3 linked regions of the Homo sapiens genome follow. The protein of the gene in region 3 purifies or fractionates together with the protein of the main gene of each other region. This does not show direct contact. Each region holds a gene or a part of one and is shown on either strand. Other genes may lie near its edges.

Region 1 (7,208 bases), on a different chromosome or scaffold from region 3:
TTATATTTTTAGTAGAGACATGGTTTCTTCATGTTGGTCAGGCTGGTCTCAAACTCCCAACCTCAGGTGACCCACCCGCCTCAGCCTTCCAAAGTGCTGGGATTACAGGCATGAGCTACCACACCCGGCCCACTTTACATTTTCTAGTAGCCACATTTTAAAAGTTTTTTAAAAAGCAACATTAATTTTAATAATATATTTTCTTTAATCCAATATATCGTAAGTGTTATCATTTATTCAACATGTAATCAGCATAAAAGTTAAGGTACTGTACATTATTTTCACGTGGCCAGGGGCAGTGGCTCACGCCTGTAATCACAGCACTTTGGGAGGCCAAGGCTGGCAGATCACCTGAGGTTGGGAGTCAAGACCAGCCTGACCAACATGGAGAAACCCCATCTCTACTAAAAATACAAAAATTAGCCAGGCGTGGTGGCGCATGCCCGTAATCCCAGCTACTCAGGAGGCTGAGGCAGGAGAATCGCTTGAACCCAAGAGGCAGAGGTTGCAGTCAGCTGAGATCTCACCATTGCACTCCAGCCTGGGCAACAAGAGTGAAACTCCATCTCAAAAAAAAAAAAAAAAAAAAAAAAAGATATTGTACATTATTTTCATACTAAATCTTTGAAATCCAGTGTGTATTTTGCACATGTAGCAGATCTAAATTCGAAACTAGTCACATTTTAAGTATTCAATAATCACATGTGCCTAGTGGCTACTATACAAAGCAGTGCAATTTTATAGCATACTCTGCTATATTCCCTTCCCAGCACTTACCACAAACTGAATGCATTGTTTACTTATTATCTTGTAACTTCCCACCAGATGCTCCACAAAAGCAAGAATCTTGTCTTTTATTCAGTGTTGTATACCCAGTGGATAGACTGCCTTGCACACAGTAGGTGTTCAATATATATTTGTTGAGCAAATGAATGAAACTCTTCTAGCTTTAATGGGCTAGCCATTCTAGAAATTCCAAGCCGGCATACAATCACTGATTTAATAACTTGCCTATTTCCCTTCATCTTTCACTATCAATTAAACTGTCTTTAAAAGAAAAATCTCTTGGCTATATAGCTCCCCATTGCTGAACTGTTCTTTCCCATGATGTCTTAAGCGTCCAGGGTCAATTTCTTGTACTTTGGCTGAGGGAGTGGTATGAAAATAACTGCTAATATTTACTGAATGTTTACTCTTTGGCAAGCATTGTCTAAGGACTTTCCATTTCTCAACAGCTTCACAACAGCCCTGTGAGGCAGCTACCGTCACTGTCCCCCATTTACAGATGAAGAAACCAAGGCAGAGAGAAATTAAGTATTTTGTTCAAGGTTACAGCAGCCAGTTAGTAGCAAAACAGAGACTGCCAGCAACCTAGGGGTCCAGACTCATGGCTCTTAATCACCTATTCTTGACTGCAGGGCTGTCTAACAAAAATATAAGCTGAACTATATATGTTGTTTTAAATTTTCTAGTAAACACATTAAAATGTCAAGAGGGGCAGTTAAAATTGGTTTTAAACATATTTTATTGGCTGAGTGTGGTGTGTGGTGGCTCATACCTGTAATCCCAGCACTTTGGGAGGCCAAGTGGGAAGACTGCTTGAGGCTAGGAGTTTGAGACCATCTTGGGCAACATAGCAAGACCCTGTCTCTACAAAAAATTTAAAAATCAGCCAAGCATAGTGATGCCTGCCTGCAGTCCTAGCTACTTGGGAGGATACCTTAGACCTAGGAGTTTAAGGCTACTGTGAGCAATGATTGTGCCACTGCACTCCAGCATGGGCGACAGAGCAAGATCCTGTCTCTAAATAACAATAAAATAAAATTTTAAAAATTAATTAAGTATATTTTATTTCACCCATTATCCAAAATATGATCATTTAATCAATATGACCAATAACCAATGTAATTGATATAATCAGTACGATCATGTAATCAATATAAAAATTTCACTTTTTCCATACTAGTCTCCAACCCAAATGTGTCTTTATACTTACAGTATTTCTCAATTCAGACTAGTCACATTTCAAGCAATCAACAGCCTATGTGGCTAGTGGCTACGACATTCGGCAGTGCAGCTCTACTGCTCCTCGCAATGACCCTCCTATGGAATCAAAGTGGGGGAAAAACTTTGGGGTGGAAGTCAGTACGCCTGAGCTCAAATTCCAGCTCCTTGTTTCTGAGTGACTTTGGACAAGCCCTTTCTGCTCTCTAGGTCCCATACAGTTTCCCCACAAGTTTCCTAGGCAAGGGGGACCCTGAGCAAGATTCCTAGAAACTCATTCCATGCTAGAATTCCCAACATCTCCTGCAAATCGCAGTAAACACAAGCACAGCTTTCCACACTTTAAAACCAGCTTTCATACATATCAGTTGGTACAGTCCTCAAACAACCCTACTAAGGCAGTTATTAGTGTCTCCACTATATAGATACAAAAACTTGGTTCAAAGAGGGGGGGAATGACTTGTCCAAAAGCCACATAGCCAGTCAGTGGAGAAGCTGGAGATCAAATCCAAGTGAGACCAGTGCACTCCCACCGCCGCCACCACCATCACCTCAATGACTGGGGGGACATGAGAGCTGAGAGGACATGGTTGTGAAAAAAAGGATAGTCTGGGGTTTCAGAGGAGTTTCAGGGAACCAGGCCCCAGGGTGAGGAAGAGGAGGTGAAGGGCTCAGGTCTTGAGAAGGGATGAATCGAAAGGGCCCAGGAGGGCTTCGGAGAGCAAAGTAAAACGAGGGGCTGAGACCCCGGGTGGCATGAGAAGTTAGAGGGCCCGGGAGTGAGGCGAGAGGAGGTGAGATGAAAGGGCTCTGGCTCCTGCGACCCCTGCCCAGGTGAGAACGCGGTCGCTCGGCCCTCCCTGCCCCTCATACCTGGTAGCTCAGAAGTTCGCCCACGTCCATGGTACCCGGCCCAGCAAATACTCCACTTCCCTGCACTCACGCCCAGACCGCGGGCCCGTCAGCCGCGGCTCCAGCCACACTGCCGTAAAGTGCGGCGAGCGGAGCCGCAGAGCCAATAGGGCAAAAGTGCGAGCGACAAGCGAGCCGGCCACACCGCGGTAAAAGGACGCGCCGCCGTAAAGCGCGCTGCATTTGGAACAGGGTTGCTTCCGCCTGGAGCCTGAGGGGGCGGGGAAAGGGGGCGGAGACTTAGAGGAGGGGCGGGAGGGGAGAGCAGGGACCAGAAGAAACCAAACTTGATTGCGCGTCCCTAGTGTCCAGGGCGGAGTGCCGGGTGTTTCGTGTGCGCTCTCACGAGCTTCCAGTGATTTATCCTCATTTCACAGAAAAGGAAACTGACGCTCCCAACTGCACCATCCAATACTTTACTCACTAGCCACATATGGCTACCGAGCGCTTGAGATATGGCTACTCCGAAGTGAGATGTGCCATAAGTGTAAATAAAATACACACCAGATTTCTAAGACTTACATTGATTACAGGTTGAAATGATATTTTGGATATACTGGGTCAAATTCATATATTATAAAATGAATTTTACCTGTTTCTCTTTACTTCTTAAATGTGGTTAGTAGAAAGTTTTAAATTACACATGTGGCTCTCATTTGTGGTTCCCATTAATTTCTATCAGATAGTGCTGGCTCAAAAAGTGACTTGTTCCAAGGCTGTACAACTATTACTGGCTGAGAAACTATTGGTGATCACATGTCCCTCTCTAGGCTTGTGTCTGCTCATCTATGCGAAGTCTAACGGTCACTAGATGATCCCCTTGCTACCCAGGTGATATAAAAAGGTTTCTGGAGGAGAAAGTTGCCCATAATTGGAAGAGAATCATTCAGAGTGCATCTGATCTTAAACAAGATCAGAATGCACCTGGGACTTAAGGCTCCATCTTCAAAGGAAATTAAACCTCCTTCCATAAGCCCCTGTCCTTTATATTTATAATTATATTTATGTATTATATTATATTTATATGCCCTTCATATTTATAATTTTGGTCCCCATCCCATCTGCACTGGCTCCAATTATACAGAAATTATTCTTATTCCTCAGAATGACAAATCCTCTCCCCTTCTGCCTGGCCATCAGCACCATACCTCATCCAATTCTCTCATCTTTCGGGTCTCAAATGTCACTTTCTTACAAGGGCTTCTTCAACTCACCCTGGTCCAGGTAATCAACCTCTCTCCTCATTATTCTTTTTCCAAGTACCTGCTCCACTACGTATATATCTCATTCTGTAATTTTGTGCTTAATGGTTGACTATTTGTTTCTTGACAGCCTCATTTACTGGATTGCAAGCTCTATGCAAGCAGGACATGTGTGTGTCATGTTCACCACTGTATCCCCCAAGCCTAGTACAGTGCCTGGTAGAGGGAGAGGTTTCATAATGGGCCTTGTGTGCCATGGTAAAGAGATTAGATTTTGGCTAGGCGTGGCCGGGCGTGGTGGCTCACGCCTGTAAGCTCAGCACTTTAGGAGGCCAAGGCGGGCAGATCACTTGAAGTCAGGAGTTTGAGACCAGCCTGACCACCATGGTGAAACCTCGTCTCTACTAAAAATTACAAAAATTAGCTGGGCATGGTGGCACATGCCTCTACTTGGGAGGCTGAAGCAGGAGAATCGCTTGAACCCAGGAGGCAGAGGCTGTAGTGAGCTGAGATTCCACCACTGCACTCCAGCCTGGGTGACAGAGCAAGACTCTGTCTCAAAAAAAAAAAAAAAAAAAAGAGAGAGAGATTGGATTTTATGCTAACGGCATAAGGAAAGTTTTAAGCAAGGTAGTTTTGTGACTGGGCTTATGTTTTTAAAGGATCACCTATGCAATCTGCATTGAATTCAGTCTATTTGGGTGTCTTTCCCCCTCCTACTTATATAAGAATATGGACTGTGCCCGGCCGGGTGTGGTAGCTCACGCCTGTAATCCCAGCACTTTGGGAGGCCGAGGAGGGCAGATCACGAGGTCAGGAGATTGAGATCTTCCTGGCCCACATGGTGAAAACCCATCTCTACTAAAATACAAAAAATTAGCCAGGTGTGGTGGCACGTGCCTGTAGTCCCAGCTACTTGGGAGGCTGAGGCAGGGGAATCGCTTGAACCAGGGAGGTGGAGATTGTAGTGAGCCAAGATGGCACCACTGCACTCCAGCCTGGCGACAGAGCAAGACTACGTCTCAAAAAAAAAAAAAAAAAATAGAATATAGACTGTGCCTTGTTTGGGAAGACAGGAGAGAGTAATGGTGAGGGTGTACCCTTTGGACCCAGACCCCTGTGTTCTAGTTCATGGTATGTTGATGCCAGCTTGCACAGACAGGTCTACAAAAGCCCATGGTTAAATTTGTAGGAAACTTGCAAGCTGATTGACACCAGGTTGATAGCTTGAAATCAGCCATGCTAGGAGTATTTGTACAATGTAAATCAGCAAATGCTACAAATCAGGGTTGTTAATGTTGTTGTTTTTCCAGAGAGCTACTTGTAGGGTTTTTTTGTTTCTTTGTTTGCTTTTGAGACAAGCTCGGGCTCTATCACCCAGGCTGGAGTGCAGTGGCGGGATCTCAGCTCACTGCAACCTCCCCCTCCCGGGCTGAAGCCCACCTCAGCCTCCCAAATAGCTAGGACTACAGGCGTGCGCCACCATGCCTGGCTTATTTTGTTGTTGTTGTTGTTGTTGCTGTTGTTGTAGAAATAGAGTTTCACCATGCTGCCCAGGCTGGTCTCAAACTCATGAGCTCAAGCAATCCCCCCGCCTTGGCCTCACAAAGTGCTGGGATTACAGGCATGAGCCACTGCACCCAGCCGAGCCAGTTGTTAAACATCTACCCAACACACCCTGATTCTGGTTCTAGTGGAAGTTCCACCATATCTAGCCATGGGTCCTTGGGTAAGTTACTTTCTCTGTCCCTAAATTACACTTTCCTTATCTGTAACATGACTCATTCATTCATTCATTCATTCAACAAGTATTTACTGAGAGCCTACTCAATGCTAGGCACAATTCTGGGCTCTGAGGATATGGAAGTTTATAAAACAAAGCTCCTGCCTTCTGGAAACCTACATTCTAGTTTGGGTGAAAACCTCATGGAGAAAATGTTGATATGAGTCTTATTTTACAGATGTGGAAACAGTGGCAATGAACTTCACCTCTACATGCCTGATTTTCTCACCTGCAAAGTGGAGATTCAACCAAATCTACCTCATAAGGTTATGGAGGGTTTACATGAAATGCTGTATGCAAAGCACTTGGCACAGTGCCTGGCACAGAAAAGTGCTGTGTGTCTTATATTAATATTGTAAGGAGTTGGCAGCTGGGCACGGTGGCTCATGTCTGTAATCCCAGAGCTTTGGGAGACCAAGGCGGATCCCTTGAGCCCAGGAGTTCGAGACCAGCCTGGGCAACATAGTGAGACCCTGTCTCTACAAAAAAATAGAAAAAAAATTTAGCCAGATGTGGTGGCACGTGCCTGTAGTCTCGGCTACTCAGGAGGCTGAGGCTGGAGAATCACTTGAGCCCAGGAGGCAGAGGTTGCAGTGAGCCAGGATTGTGCCACTGCATCCTGGGTGACAGAGCAAGACCTTGTCTCTCAAAAAAAAAAAAAAAAAAAAGAAAGAAAAAGGAGTTGAGTGGGATAGGGGCAAGGGAGAGGGCAGGAAGAATGAGAGAATTCCTTATAACCTTTCCTTTTTAGGCAATCAGTCTTGTCTGTTTTTGTAGAGACCAGTTCTAAAACACAGAATTATAAGGCAAAATCCTATAAGAACCAGGTTTGGTGAGCACCCTGAACTGGGGCTAATGTGCTCTGCTAGAGGTTTCCCTGAGAACGTAACATCTGGACAGGGGTTTAAAGGGAAAGAAGAGTTTACCAAGAAGATACAGTGGGAGAATGGTGACCCAGGCAGAGGGAACAGCATGAGCAAAGACAAGGCAATTGGACCCTTCCTTGTGGACAGAGCTTCAAATGTGTGGAAGAAAAGGTGGAGAGGCTGGCTGGAGAAGATCACGAAGAGGGTTAACAGATTTAGCAAATAAAAATACAGGACACCCAGTTAAATCTGAATTTCAGACAAATAATGAATTTTTTATAAATTTGTCTCATGCAATATTTAATAACATACTAAAAATGTTTTCTGTCTGAAATTCAGAATTAAATGGGCATTATTTATTTTATCTGGCAACCCTAATCTTGGAGAAACTTGAATGCCAGATTAAGATATTTTCATTTTATCTTGATGAGAGGGTCCATT
Region 2 (7,782 bases), on a different chromosome or scaffold from region 3:
AAGCTCCTCCAAGCACTCTGCACACTCTCCTAAGGCATGACTGAGCTGCTCTGAGTTTTTTTAAACCGTTACTTCGTTGTTTTTACTAGAATGTCTTCCTAACCATTCTAAGGCATCTTTGTGTCCCCATCACCTAGGAAAGTATCTGGCATATGAACAGGGGTTCAATAACTGCTTGTTGAATAAATGAAACACTTCACAGTTCCATGGGTTGTTTCACAGACCATCTCTAAACCACCTGTCTGGTCCCTTCCTCTTCCATGCTGCCTGCCTCTACCACTAGCCCTTTTGTTTACCCTTTGTTAAGTTTAGAGTTTCCCTATTAGGCATTCTAATCTGATCTTCTTGCCAGATAACCAGAGAAATGGCCCTGCCATAACACTCTTCTTCCCCAAAGGAGAGCATTTTCCTCTATCCTTGTGCCAGCCCCGCAACCACACAATCTATCATTTGTGTTCTACAGCAAATTCAAGTAACTTATCTGGAGTTAAGCACCCCCACCCTCACATGCAGGCTTTTCTGGACTTACTCTCACTTTGTTCACTGTAAAATGGCCCCTTTAAGTTTGACCTAACTTAAGAGCCATTACAATCAAATCAAATTGAAGAAATGCAGTACAAATGAAGTATTAAAAGGGTTCTTTCTGAGGTGTCTGTCTGAAGAAAAAGGTAATCTTGGAGGAATATCATCTTCTCCTCTCTCAAGTATTAGTAAGTTTTAAACAATAACAAATCTACTCCATGTAAAATGGAGTTAACAGTCAATTGATCAAAATTAACACTCTTCATTGACTAGAATTGGTTCCAATAATTTGTATTTGCTAAAATCTAGGATTGCACTGTAGGAAAAATTCAGTAGGATTTAACAAAGCTGTCTCTTAAAAATGGGAGACACTGGGAGAGGAACTGGATGGCTGGTGTCAAGGAAGGGAAGGAAACTTGTTTATCATTGTATATGGTTTTCCACCTTTTTTTTTTTCACATGTGCATATATTACTTATCCAGCCCACGCTCAAAATCAAAACAAAAATCCTGGGAGGCAGCCTAAAAATTTGAAACTGTTCCAGTTACATATGATCATAAAGCTGGGACAGAGATAGAAATCAAAGAGATGAACACTTCCAACTTGGCTGAGAGAGCTAGTCACTGCCCACTGACTCAGGGGCACCGCATCTAAGGGAAAGACACAGCAGCTGAGAGACCTGGCTCCAGTTCTTCCAGCAACTCCTAGTCCCCGCTGGTGCCAGGATTACCATTCAGGTGTTCTGCGGCAACACAAGACAACAAACAACCCATTAAGCCTTTGGAGAAAAGCCTATTTACTTCAGAGCTCAATCTTTTTTTTTTTGAGACGGAGTCTCGCTCTGTCGCCCAGGCTGGAGTGCAGTGGCGCAATATCGGCTCACTGCAAGCTCCGCCTCCCGGGTTCACGCCATTCTCCTGCCTCAGCCTCCCAAGTAGCTGGGACTACAGGCGCCCGCCACCACGCCCGGCTAAGTTTTTGTATTTTTTAGTAGAGACGGTGCTTCACCGTGTTAGCCAGGATGGTCTCCATCTCCTGACCTCGTGATCTGCCCACCTCGCCCTCCCAAAGTGCTGGGATTACAGGCGTGAGCCACCGTGCCTGGCCACTTCAGCGCTCCATCTTGCCAAGGTTTATGTACCAGCTGAGTGGAATCATCTGGGAAGGGATCATAAATAGCTACTCCATAATCTCCCACAACAGTTTTCTGATGTCTGAAGCTTACTCTGTACTATAATCTCTAGATTAGGCAGTTCCCCGACTGCAGACCCCATGAGATGACTTTCAACCACAAGCAAAGCAACACAAAGCAGATGGCAAAGCAATTAAAAACTATTTTTAATCATGTCTCTCTCTTCGCCCAAGTTTCTCAAATACTGTGCCTAGGTCTAACCCCTCTCTCCCACTTCACTCAACAAACGTGTATTGAGAATGTGGTAATGAGAAACACGGTGCAGATATAAAGGTGAACAAAGAACCCTAAGTATCCCACTTCTCAAATGATTCTCCTCTTTCCTCCCTGAAAACAAACCCAATCCCTCAAGATAGCCCAAGTCTGGAAATAAGACGATAACCGATTAGAAGGGGATTCCTAGCTTAATGGGAATAACATTGTACAATAACCAACAACTTGAATCTAACTGATGAATACAGTACACATGCGGGCAGAAAAGTGCAGAGCACGTCTAAAATCCTACCACATGGTCCTTCCCTTAACTCCCATCATAAACCTACATAGCCTGGTTATAGGGGGCTCACAGGTTTTCAGGGCCGACGGGACGCCCTTCCCCGTGCCCGCGCCACCCATTCGATCTCCACACTCCCGAGACCATCCCCGGCCAGGCCGCAGTGCCCCGGGCGTGGCTTGGACCCTCACCTGCCGGCTGGCCGCCGCTCAGCGCAGAGGGGGGCTGCAGGCTATACACTGTCTTAACCACACTGGTCATCGTAACGAGGCGGCACGGCTGAACCCTGGAAGGTACAGGATGAATGTTACCCAGCGCTGGGCCACTGGGCCCGAGAGAGTGGAGGGCCCGGGGATAGCGCGACCCGACAGGCCCCGGCTCGGGGTTGGAAAAGAGAAAATCCTCCTTTCCCAGCTCATTCCGTCCTTCCTCCCATCCAGCCCAGTCCCTCGCCCCGGGAGAGCCGAACCCAGGAGCCCGCCGGTCCTGCCCGCAGTCCTTCTCGCTCTCGTTTAAAAGATTCCCTGCAGCAACTGTCGTGCCACCGGCTAAGTCGGCCGCCTGGGTTTCAAATAGAAACTTCCGGTAGCTAGGCGGAAGTGGGTGGGAATCGCACTCTGTAGACAGCCATGTTGTACGGAAAACTCTGTCCAGGGGCGGGGCTTCGGGAGCCGCCATACTGTACGGAAGGTTCGCTCAGAGGCCAGAGCCAGACCTAGCGAAAGGTGTTGGAGCCCCCAGGTCTGGGCAGAGGAGGAGGGTGATGCAATTTGTAGGCTTGAATGGAGCTAATGAGCTACCAGCGTCATATTCCGGGATGGAGACGCAAACGTGGCGACATTTAGGGTCCATGTCACAATCCTCTTTATTTAGTTTGGGATTGTTAGGGATATTGCCAGGAGCACAGGTTATTTGGATGAAAACTACACGTTACAGGTGGAGAGTGGCAGGTGAGGCTTGAAGAAAAGGACCTATGGGCTGAGATACCTGAGGCACCTACCTGAGGTCCTAATTTTAATAGCACTTATCCAGATTTTCAGTAGTGATTCAAAGCTACTCCCAATAAACAGGGTAGCTTCCATTACTAAATGCACTAGCTCATTCATTTCATCTGGCATTTATTGAGTACCTGCTGATTACCCAACAGTGTTCTCAGTGGGTGGAAGGGAGTGAGGGAGGGCAAATATCAAGATTGACCTTGGCTCTGCCCTCCTGGAGTTTACAACTTAGAAAACAGACAGTGAACAAATAATCACATAAATAAATATATATTTACGGATTGTGGTGAAATTGTGAAGAAGGCTGGGCACAGTGGCTCACAGCTGTAATTATAGCACTTTGGGAGGTGGAGGCGGGTGAATTGCTTGAGTCCAGGAGTTTGAGACCACCCTGGGCGACATGGTGCAACCCCGTCTCTACAAAAAATACAGAAATTAGCCAGGTGTCGTGGCATGCTCCTGTAGTCCCAGCTACCCTGGAGGCTGAGGTGGGGGAATTATGTGACCCTGGGCGGGGCAGAGGTTGCAGTGAGCGGAGATCGCGCCACTGCACTTCACCCTGGGTGACAGAGCGTGATCTCAAAAATCAAACCAAAACACACACACTATGAAGAAAAAGTACAAAATCGTATAAGATAGAAAAGCAGGGAAACTTAGATTATATTGGGGGCTCAGGGAAGACCTCTCTGAGATGATGTTTGATTAAGGAAGGAGAGGGAGTTAATTTCATTGGGGAAAGGGGAAAATGCAAAGTCCCAAGGCAGAAATGGGTTCTTCTATAGGCACAGAAAGATAGGAAGAGAGTGGTACAGATAAAGCTGGAGAAATAAGCAGTCAAAAGACAGATTTTACAGGCCAAGGTATAGAGATTAGATTTTATCTAAAAGTAATGGAAAGCCACTGAAGTATTATAGCAGGAGAGTGTCATCCAATTTATATTTTATTTTATTTTATTATTATTTTTTGAGACAGGGTCTCACTCTGTTGCCCAGGCTGGAGTGCAATCATAGTTCACTGCAACCTTGAACTCCTGGGCTCAGGAGATCCTCCCACCTCGGCCTCCTGAGTAGCTAAGACTAAAGGTGCCTGCCACCAGACCCAGCTAATTTTTGTAGAGATGGGGTCCTGCTATGATGCCCAGGCTGGTCTTAAACCCCTGGCCTCAAATGATCCTCCCACTTCAGCCTCCCAAAGTGTTGGAATTACAGGCATGAGCCACTGTACCTGGCTCAATTTATATATACTTTATATATATATTCTTTTCTTTCTTTTTTTTTTTGGAGACGGAGTCTCACTCTGTTGCCCAGGCTGGAGTGCAGTGGCACGATCTCGGCTCACTGCAACCTCCGCCTCCTGAGTTAAAGCGATTCTCCTGCCTCAGTCTCCCGAGTAGCTGGGTCTACAGTGCCACCACCACGCTTGGCTAATTTTTTATATTTTTAGTAGAGACGGGGTTTCACCATGTTGGCCAGACTGGTCTCAAACTCCTGACCTCAGGTGATCTGCTCGCTTCGGCCTCCCAAAGTACTGGGATTACAGGCGTGAGCCACCACGCCCAGTCCTTTTTCTTTTCGAATAATTGGGCTTGAATAATTGTGTGGATAGAGTCACTATTTTCTGCTGGGGGAGATTGAGAGTTGGGTTTTGAACGTGGAAAACCTCGACATATCTTTGAGGCATTCCGGTGGAGTGGTCAAGTAGGCAATTGGAAATACAGGCCCTGAGCCCAGAAGAGAGCCTGGATTGGAGATACACCCTTGGGAGTTGTTGACATATGAATGTACTTAAAATCTTGATATTTAGGAGTTCGAGACCAGCCTGGCCAACATGATGAAACCCCGTCTCTGCTAAAAATACAAAAAAATGGCCAGGCACAGTGGCTCACACCTGTAATCCCAGCACTTTGGGAGGCTGAGGTGGGATCACTTAAGGCCAGAAATTCGAAACCAGCCTGGCCAACATGGTGAAACTCCATCTCTACTAAAAATACAAAAAACTAGCCAGGCATGGTGGTGCATGCCTGTAATCCCAGCTACTTGGGAGGCTAAGGCAGGAGAATGACTTGAACCTCAGAGGTGGAGGTTGCAGTGAGCCGAGATGGTGCCACTGTACTCCAGCCTGGGTGACAGAGCGAGACTCTGTCTCAAACAAAATAAAATAAAAAATAAAATAAAACCTTGATATTTGATGAGCTCAAGAGAAGAAGTGTGCAGAGAGCCTTTGGGCCAAGGACAGGGACACCTGCATTTAAAAGTTGCAATGGTAATAAGGTGCTTGCCAAGAAACCTGATAAAGAAGTGCCAGAGAGGTGAGAAGAAAACAAAAAAGGGTGGTGTTCCAAAATCCAAGGAGGAAGTGGCAAGCTGCTGAAGGAGGGAGTGGTGAACTATTGAAAATAGTTGAAAGGGCAAGCAGAATGAGAACGAAAAGCATCCAATGAATTTAGCAACAGAGAAGTCATGATGAGTCTAGCAAGAGGAATGCTGGTGGAGCGTTTGGAGTGGCAGTCACATGGGCATGGGTTGAAGAGTACGTGGGAGATGAGGAAGCAGAGATGGCAGAACTCCAGGCGTCTGTTGCAAAAAGAGCAGAGCAACTGGGCAGTAACTGGAGATGGGTTATGGGGGTCAAAGGAAGCTTTCCTTAAAGCTGTGGATATGTGTGCTGATAGGAACGAGCCAGCAGAACAGAGGGAAAGGATACTCAGGAGCAAGGAAGAAGGAAGATGGGATCCAGAGTAGCATCTTTAAATTCCTTTATTCATGCGCCCCCACAAAATAAAAAAATAAAAAAACCCTCTTGCCTGTTTTCACTTGATACCTAAAATTTAAGTTTACTTTTATTTTTATTTTTTTAGAGGCAGGATCTTGCTATGTCACCCAGGCTAGAGTGCAGTGGCTATTCACAGGTGTGATCATAGATAGCGTACTGTAGCCTTGAACTTCTGGACTCAAGCCATCCTCTCACTTCAGCCTCCTAAGTAGCCAAGACTGTAGGCATGCACTATCTCACCTGGCTTAAATTTTTTTCATAACTTTAAATCATTGTAAAGGACATACTTTCTGCCTGTTGTATATTGTGTATACTTTTTTTCTTTTTTTTTGAGATACGGTCTCGCTTGGTTTCCCAGGCTGGAGTGCAGTTGTGCGATCATAGCTCACTGCAGCCTTCAACTCTTGGGCTCAAGCGATCTTCCTGCCTCAGCGTCCCAAGTAGTTGGGGCTATAGGCACGTGCCACCATGCCTGGCTAATTTTAAAATTTTTTTGTGGAGATGAAGTCTTGCTATGTTGCCCAGGCTGGTCGGGAGCTCCTGGCCTCAACTGATTCTCCCACCTTGGCCTCCCAAAGTGCTGAGATTACAGGCATGAGCCACCCACCTGGTCACATTGTGTATACTTTGTATTCTTTTCTTTTTTCTTTTTTTTTTTTTTTTTGAGATGGAGTCTCATTCTTTTGCCCAGGCTGGAGTGCAGTGGTGCCATCTCGGCTCATTGCAACCTCTGTCTCCCGTACTCAAGCGATTCTCCTGCCTCAGCCTCCTGAGTAGCTGGGATTACAGGCATGCACCACCACACCAGGCTAATTTTTGTATTTTTAGCAGAGACAGGGTTTCACCATGTTGGCCAGGGTGGTCTCGAACTCCTGACCTCAGGTGATCCGCCCGCCTCAGCCTCCCAAAGTGTTGGGATTACAGGCATGAGCCACTGCGCCTAGCCCTTTGTATTCATTTCTAAAATTCTTTCTCTTGGTGTTTTTTGGATAATTTCTATTGTTATGTCTTCAAGTGCACTACTGTTTTTTCTGCAACGTCTAAACTGTTGTTAATTCCATTCAGTGATTTTCCATCTCAGACTTTTTTTTTTTAATTTTAAAAACACTTTTAAATTCTTTATTTTGGAATCGTTATAATTGACAGGAAGTTACAATGATAGTATAGGGAGGTCCTTTGGACTCTTTACCCAGTTTCCCCCAATGGTTTTGTTTCAGTACAATTTTAACAGCTTTATTGAGATATAATTAACATTCCATAGACCACATATTTTAAGTGTACAATTTGATAAGTTTAGAAATTACATATACCTGTGAAACCATCACCACAATTAAGATAATAAACACAGCCGTCATCCCCAAATCATTCCTCCTTCCCCTTGGTACTTCTTCCCATCCTCCTCTTTCTGCCTACCCCACCCACCCCATCATCTCAGACATTTTAGTTTTCGTCTCTAAAATTCAAAGTGGGTATTTAAAAATATCTTCCTAGTCTCTACTTAGTACATATGGAATACAGTTATAATAATTCTTTTAGTGTCCTTGTCTAATTCTCACATAGGTGTCAGCTGTAGTGGTTTCAACTGATTTTTCTCCTTATGATGGGTTATAGTTTGCATGACTGGTAATTTTTTATTGGAAAACCAGCCATTGTGAATTTTACATTTTTGGGTGCTCGTTAATTTTGGATTTCTGTTAATGTTCTTGGGTTTTGTTCTGGGATACACTTCAGTTACTTAGAAACAGCTTGATTCCTGAATTCAGGTCTTGCTTTTGAGATTTGTTAGGTAGGTTCCAGCAATGTTT
Region 3 (7,172 bases):
TGAGTTCTCACGAGATCTGATGGTTTTATGAGGGGCTTTAGCCCCTTTGCTCAGCATTTGTCTCTCCTGTTGCCATGTAAAGAAAGACATGTTTGCTTTCCCTGCTGCTATGACTGTAAGTTTCCTGAGGCCTCCCGAGTCACTGTGAGTCAATTAAACCTCTTTCCCTTATCAATTACCCAGGCAGTTCTTCATAGCAGTGTGAGAACGGACTAATACAGTTGGTGATCCTGATCCTGTGTAGGCCTAGGGTAATGTGTGCTTGTGTCTTAGTTTTTAACAAGAAAAGTTTAAAAAGTAAAAAATAAAAATAAAAAAATTAGAAAAAAGCTTATAGAACAAGGATGTAAAGAGAGACAATATTTTTGTACAGCTGTACAATGTGTTTTAGTTTTAAGTTAAATGTTATTACAAAAGAATCCATTTTTTTAAGTTTATAAAGTAAAAGTCAGCTAAGGCTTATTACTGAAGAAAAAGTTTTTTATGAATTTAGTAAAACCTAAGTGTACTGTGTTTATAAAGTCTACAGCAGCGTACAGTAATGTCCTAGGCCTTCACATTCACTCACAACTCACTCACTGAAAGCAACTTCCAGTCCTGCAAGCTCCTTTCATGGCAAGCACTATACCAGTGTACCATTTTAAAAAAATCTCTTATACCTTATTTTTACTGAACCTTTTCTATGTTTACACTTGTTTAGATACACAAATACTTACCATTGTGTTATAATTGTATTCACTACATTTAATATGCTGTACCGGTTTGTAGCCTAGGAGCAATAATAGACTATACTAAGGTTATAGCAATAGTCTTGGCGTGTAGTAGGCTACACCATTTAGATATATGTAAGTTCACTCTACAATGGTCGCACATGACGATATCACCTAACAAGACATTTCTCAGAACATATCCCCATTATTAAGTGATATATAAACTGTATAAGCTTCAATCATCTGACCCTTCTGCAGATCTAATATAATGTGGGCCTCCCGTGCATATGCACGTAATTAAAATGGCTCTCCTCCTGTCACTGTCTAATGTTCATTTATTTTAGATTCAGTTATCAAAACTTCAGAGGGACTTTTCTCTCCCTTTAGTAACCTGCCCAATGCCACAGGGCATGGAAGTGGCAGAACAAGCACTAGCATCTACTGCCATGCAGTCTGACTCAGTTGCTTCCTTAGTCATAAAGCTCTGCCTCAGGTGGTAACAGAAAGCTGCTTAGGTAAATTCATGCAAGCCCTAGAAATTCCTAACCCAGTGAGGCTTCCCTCCGGGCCTGGGCACCTAGAGAGATCCCAGGAGCCCAGGACCAGCCTCTACCTGTAAAGTGAAGAATCTCCGTCCATTGTTTGCAGATGTAGATCTGGACATCCGTGCCCCCAAGAGCCAGGTAGGTACCACTCTGGTCAAAGATCAGTGACTTTACCTGCCAGAAATAGAAAGAGAGAAGGTCACACAAGGGGAACAGAAACTATGGGGCAGTTGCGGATAAGCAGAAGCAATTAGATTAATTCAATAAATAATTGACAAACAAGGAGACACAATGGAAAGCTGGGCGGAGGGGGAAGGGCACACCTCAAAGTTGTTATCCAGCTGCAAAGTCTTAAAGTTCTTAAGCTTGCGCAGATCCCAGAGCTTGACAGAGGAGTCATCAGCCGCTGTAGCCAGGTAGTAACCATTCTCAGAGAAGGCGATGCTAGTGATGGGGCCCGAGTGGCCAGGGAAGTTGGCCACATTAGTACGTTCCTACAGTGGCGGTGGGTAGTAAAATACGTCACCCACAGATCATGAGAGGAAGAAAATGGGGCTCACCAAACTCCTACCTGAGATGTCCCTCACGTCCTTCCAGGAAGGACAGCCAGCGGGACCCCCCAGACCACACCATCATATCACACACGCACAGCCAGTGTCTCTCCACCTTCAGGGCCAGGTGCCACAAGCACCTAATTAGCACTGCATTGTCACAAACACTCCCTCTGGCCCTGGGCCTCAGATGGAGGCCTACCATGTCCTACCTTCAAGTCCCAGATCTTGATCTGAGAGTCCATGGTTCCTGTTCCAAAGATGAGTCCGTCAGGGTGGAACTGTGCACAGGTGAGAGCTGTGGAGGAGGGAAGAGAGACCTGTGGTCAGAGCCCACCAGGGAGAGAGACTAAGAGCAGCAAAGGTAGGTTCCTTGTTCTTCACATTCCTCAGTGAACCCAGCACAAAGCCCGCACTAGACAGGTGCTCATGGTAAATATATCTTTAGAACAAATAAACAAATGACTAAATAAAATGTAAAAATAAATAATAAACAGCAAACAAAAAAGCTGAGTGCCTATGAGGCAACTTACAGCAGCCGGAGGTCTCATCTGTCACCTTGGTGAGCACACGCCCTGTCTGGATGTCAGAGAAAGCCCAGTACTGGGGAAAAAAAAAGAGACAATGGAGTCAGTGAGAAAGTGGGTCCCAGGTTCTGGTGGCCCTTCAGCAAGACAGAGCCCCTGGTTTGGCAAACCCTGGCAAACATTCTCCTTTGAGGTTCTGGGGAACCAGCTGGGGTGGGAAGATGTTCCTGCCACCCAGGATGTTCAAGCTTGGGGACCAGCAGGCCTCTCCAGGGCACTGGCTGGGACCGCACCTGATCATCGGAGGAGCTCAGGAGATAGTCGCCAGTGGCATGAAGGCTGAGGCCTGTCACAGCACTCTCATGGGCCCGAACCACCTGTACACAAGAGGCATTGGGGACCGACCAAATCCTGATAGTGGCATCGGGGGAAGCAGAAAACACCAGGTCCTACAAGGAAAACAAAGACAGAATATCAGAGTCAGAAAAGAGATACAGACCAAAACAATCTTATAAAACGGGGCTGGGGATGCCCACAACTGCCAACAATTGCTTCTCCTTTCAGCTCTGCCCTCCCTGGAACCACCTATCCACCCAATGGTGCCCAAGACAGCCAATGGTAAACGCTATTAAAGTGCTAACTCATACAGCATCAGGGCTTGTGGAGGCGTCCTCGCCATCTAGTGGTAAAAAGGCTAACTGCAACAGAGAGCAATTTTCCCATTTCCAGGACCAAAGGAAAAATGTAGCTAGTACAATTGAGGGACTGAATTTTTTATTCTATTTCATTGAAATTTAAATAGCCACATGCAGCTAACTGCTACTGTACTGTATGGCACAGGTCTGAGCAGTACTGGGACTGGAAGGGGCTGCATGGCTGTATTTCAGTGCATTCCACTTTTATGGATTTCCAGGGTAAGTTAATTTTCCAAAAGATTTGGGGCAGGGAGAGAATTTCGCGTCACTCACCAATTTTTTGTTTAGTTAGGATATTAAAAGCCATAAGGTAAAAATAACTACCATCTTTTTTTATCAATACAATTTCATGAGACCTAACTATTAATACCCCATAAGCAAGAAAACAGTGCTCTCAATTTGAACAAATTTAGTCATGAAAAATTCACCATGTTATTCTTATATTTCTCATTTCCCTAAGGTCCAAGGGAAATCTTGACTGCGAAGCACTAAACCAACCATGTCCTGCAGCCCCAAACCCAAACTGTCTTAGGCTTAAAATTCGAATCCCATAATATCATTAATCTGGTCCCATGAGTTACCTTTACCCTGTAAACCAGAGGTTCTGTTTACAACCTACACCACTTTCAACAGTCAACATGATTTTTACCCATCTTGGAGGATCATGGGAAAGCAGATATATCTGTCCTCCTCGTAAGTGTGAGTTGAGATTGTGTTGAGCTTTGTTTTCTGTAGTTTATATTAGGAACACTATAAGATTTTTTCTTTCCCTAATATGAAATATTTCAATGAATATGCTTGTCAAACTACACATTTCCGTTCTCTCCCTGGCTGGAAGATCACTGCTTTAGAAGGTCTCACGCAGAGTGAAGGGCAATCTCCACAACTCCAAAGTGAGCCCCTCCAAGTGCCCACTCAGGAGTCAGAGTCAGAGCTCTTTCCCAGCCCCACTTCACAGAGACAGCAGCGGGGTGAGGGACAAACAACAGCCAAGGAAAGAAGAACCAAGGGTGGCGAGGAGAACCCCTTACCTGGGAAGGGTGAAACACCACGCTGGTGACCTTCTTGGTATGGCCTTTGAGGGTAGCCAGGATTTGTTCAGAACTTTTGTCAAACACAACGACATTTTTATCCGCCCCACCTGGAGAAGACCCAAAAAGACCAAACAATGAGTCAGGCCCACCCAGGCCCTTTTGCTCAAGGAAATGCTTTTGTTCCCATGCCCATGAAGAGGACAAGGAGCATGCGCCTTCCCTGCTGCCCCTCCCCACTTTGGCCTGCCGGGCTAGGCCCAGACTCTCACCAGTGAGGATCTTGTTGGTGTCGGACGGGCAGAGGTCCAGGGCCAGGATCCCAGGAATGCTGGCACTGTGCAACCCCTTTGCAGAGAGACACACCAAACCCTGTCACGGCCAAATCACAGCAGGCCACAAAGCCACAGACCTCCCCTACTGCCATCTCCAGTCACCCATGTTCTCAGGGGAGCAAGAGTTACTTCTATTCCTTATCCATACCTCTTGGCTATCTGCCTGGTACGGTAACTCCCTCACTGCATCACTAGGAAACCCACAGCTGGGCAGAAAGAGGAGCCCTGACAACTCAGCAGCCCAGGCGAGAAACAGCACCAGGAACAGCGCCAGGAACCTGGGACAGCTCTGCACTCAGCACTCCCCATGCTGGCCCGCCCACCCCAGAAACAAAACGGGAGGGCTGTCTCCAAGACAGTGGAGACCCAGACACTCACCACGTGGGATGCCACCTGCCGGTATTTGCTGAGCTCTTCTGGCTTCACCAGCTCCTCAGGCACAGTCTTCCCTCTCTGAGAAAATGAAAAGCCCCCAAAGAAGAGCAGCAATGAATCCAAGATTCAGCCGCCCTCTCTCTCCTAAGGAGTCAACCGCCTCCCACCAGGCCAGCTCTTTCTCCAGGCTTCAGAAAGAGAACTCACCTTCTTGCGCTCCGTGGTTAGCACAGTGGCTTTGTCTTGAAGCTGGGGAAGAACAGGCTCAATGTGAGACAAATCATCTTGCAAGGAGAAAAGTACATTAGATGCTGGTCACACCTGTGCTTTCAAAAGCAGCACCAAGAACTTGCTATCTGCCAACTTCTACGTTACAGGCTTAAAGGCATTCTCTCTTCTTACTTCCATCCCAGCTTTATGAGGGGGGTGTTGATGACCTTATTTTACAGCTGAGGAAACTGAGCCTCAGAGAAGTGAAGTCAATTGCCCAAGGTCGCAGAGGTGATAAACAGCAGAGCAAGAATAGAAGCTAGGACTGTAGAGCTCCCATAGGTCTACACGCCACTAAGCCAAGGGCTCAGACACATGCTGACAATTTGAACTGCTCAGAAAGACACTAAGAAGCCCTGCAAATGAGAATCCCACTGGACTTGCAATCAGGAAGCCCAGCTCTGCCTCTCAGATGTGTCTTTCATCTGCAAAATAAGGATTATAATTCCTATCCTATTGCCCTCATAGAAAAAAAACAAGAAAATATATAAAAGTAGTTTACTATCTGCAAAGAATCTCAATAACAATAAGAGCTAAAAGGTGCACTTATCAGTAATGAAATCTTTTAAATTCCCACAGCCTGCCTATACAGTGGATATGATCATATTCTCAGTTTAGAAGCTAGGGAAATGAGACACGTAAGGGTTGGCTAAGTAAGCCAAGGTCATAAAGCTTACAAGTAGTGGCATCAAAATACAAACCCAGGCAATCTGGTCCCAGGGTCCATGCTCTGCACCACTCAACTCCCAAAAGCACAGTGATTTTAGTCACGATGGACTCCAGACAGATGGTGAAAAGTAAGGGCCCATCAGCACTCCCACCAGGTGAGAGCAGGACTTACCTTCTGAATAATCTCTGGGGTCATTCCCACCAGCTCACCCAAATCCATTGGCTCACCCGCACCCTGAAGAGAAGAAAGGTGAGGGTGAGAGGCACAGAGCACCAAAGACACCTGCATAAGGACAGTTCTGTGGGCCACTGTACACAAATGGGCTGCTGGTAAGGGAAGGGGGACACTTACCACAACACTTGGTTGGGAACTTGGCACAGCCTGGGGCACAATGAGGCCAGCCTGTGGTTTCAGGGTAGCCAGAGCTGAGAGAAAAGACGATGTTAGAAATGGGATATTACAATGCAGAACCAGCCCAGGGTGGGGGATGGCAGGGGAGAGGCTGCACCTTCTCGGGCAGCAGTGACTTCCTTGGTGAGACGGGCAATGACACGGCAGGCGGCATCGTGCTGGTACAGAGCGTGTGACAGCTCTTGGCGGGTTGTCTGCAGCTGCTGGCGCAGAGTGAAGCTGTGCAGCATGACTGCATCCTGGGAGAAGCAAATATCATTGTAAGGTGAGGTGGGGGGTGCAGGGAGTACCCAGTGGAGTCAGCCCTTGGGGAGGGGATGCTGCCTCCTATCCCAGAGCCTAGACCAGTATCAGTGACCCAAACAATATCCGAGCAAACACGAATGTGCCGGCAGACACTCTTGAGCTCCTACCCCAAGCGAACCACTGGGCACACAGACAGGAGTGGGAGCCAGCTCTTTCCCATCCCCACCTTCCCTAACTTACTGGCAAATCCCAGCTGTCATGCCGTCCCCTCTCTAAAAGAGAATAACAACACTGCTGCTGCTGCTATTTATTGATCGCCCTCGTTGTGTCAGGCACTGTGCCAGACAGTCCTGCAGGATGTATTCAATCATTCAATTCATAACTCTAGAGCACCTACTATGTACCAGGTGCTGCTCTCAGTGCTGGGGATACAACGAAGAATAAAACAAATCCCTGATGTCACAAAGTTTACCCTCTAAATAATGCTCCATCCTTCCTACCCCCAAGTCCTAACCCAGCAATGCATTCTCTTCAAGTGGGGAAGATGCTGATTCTCTTGCAGGAACTCACCCACTCATCCTGCAAAGCTTTCAGAATGGCCGGGATGCTGGTGGCTGAGGGAGGCTTGGGCCGGATTGGGTGAGCAACTGCCGAAAGGGAAAGCAGGTATGAAGAACATAACCCAGGGGCCTCCCCCGCCATCACATCTTTTCCTTTTAGCCATAAACAGCCCACCATCTCTTCCTCCAGTGCACTGGCACCACCTCCCATCCTCTCAGGCTCTGAGCTAAGATGGCCCTAGACTA

What was found.
Region 1: the proteins of PRPF19 (region 3) and CTNNBL1 purify together in Homo sapiens (affinity purification with mass spectrometry; 5 studies listed by BioGRID and IntAct, with this or other methods). This does not show direct contact.
Region 2: the proteins of PRPF19 (region 3) and KNSTRN purify together in Homo sapiens (affinity purification with mass spectrometry; 5 studies listed by BioGRID and IntAct, with this or other methods). This does not show direct contact.

The regions. Positions count from the first base shown.
Region 1 is NC_000020.11:37,689,822-37,697,029, reverse strand, and holds the start of CTNNBL1 (beta-catenin-like protein 1), read right to left. Parts: upstream 3,001-7,208; 5' UTR 2,908-3,000; coding exon 2,878-2,907; intron 2,104-2,877; exon of another isoform or gene 1,997-2,103; intron 1-1,996. UniProt on the Homo sapiens protein: Component of the PRP19-CDC5L complex that forms an integral part of the spliceosome and is required for activating pre-mRNA splicing.
Region 2 is NC_000015.10:40,377,939-40,385,720, reverse strand, and holds the start of KNSTRN (small kinetochore-associated protein), read right to left. Parts: upstream 3,001-7,782; 5' UTR 2,886-3,000; coding exon 2,677-2,885; intron 2,494-2,676; coding exon 2,399-2,493; intron 1-2,398. UniProt on the Homo sapiens protein: Essential component of the mitotic spindle required for faithful chromosome segregation and progression into anaphase.
Region 3 is NC_000011.10:60,896,523-60,903,694, forward strand, and holds part of PRPF19 (pre-mRNA-processing factor 19), read right to left. Parts: intron 7,014-7,172; coding exon 6,937-7,013; intron 6,360-6,936; coding exon 6,218-6,359; intron 6,135-6,217; coding exon 6,061-6,134; intron 5,944-6,060; coding exon 5,881-5,943; intron 5,019-5,880; coding exon 4,977-5,018; intron 4,848-4,976; coding exon 4,773-4,847; intron 4,408-4,772; coding exon 4,332-4,407; intron 4,170-4,331; coding exon 4,060-4,169; intron 2,783-4,059; coding exon 2,627-2,782; intron 2,410-2,626; coding exon 2,340-2,409; intron 2,105-2,339; coding exon 2,019-2,104; intron 1,750-2,018; coding exon 1,579-1,749; intron 1,430-1,578; coding exon 1,324-1,429; intron 1-1,323. UniProt on the Homo sapiens protein: Ubiquitin-protein ligase which is a core component of several complexes mainly involved pre-mRNA splicing and DNA repair. Required for pre-mRNA splicing as component of the spliceosome.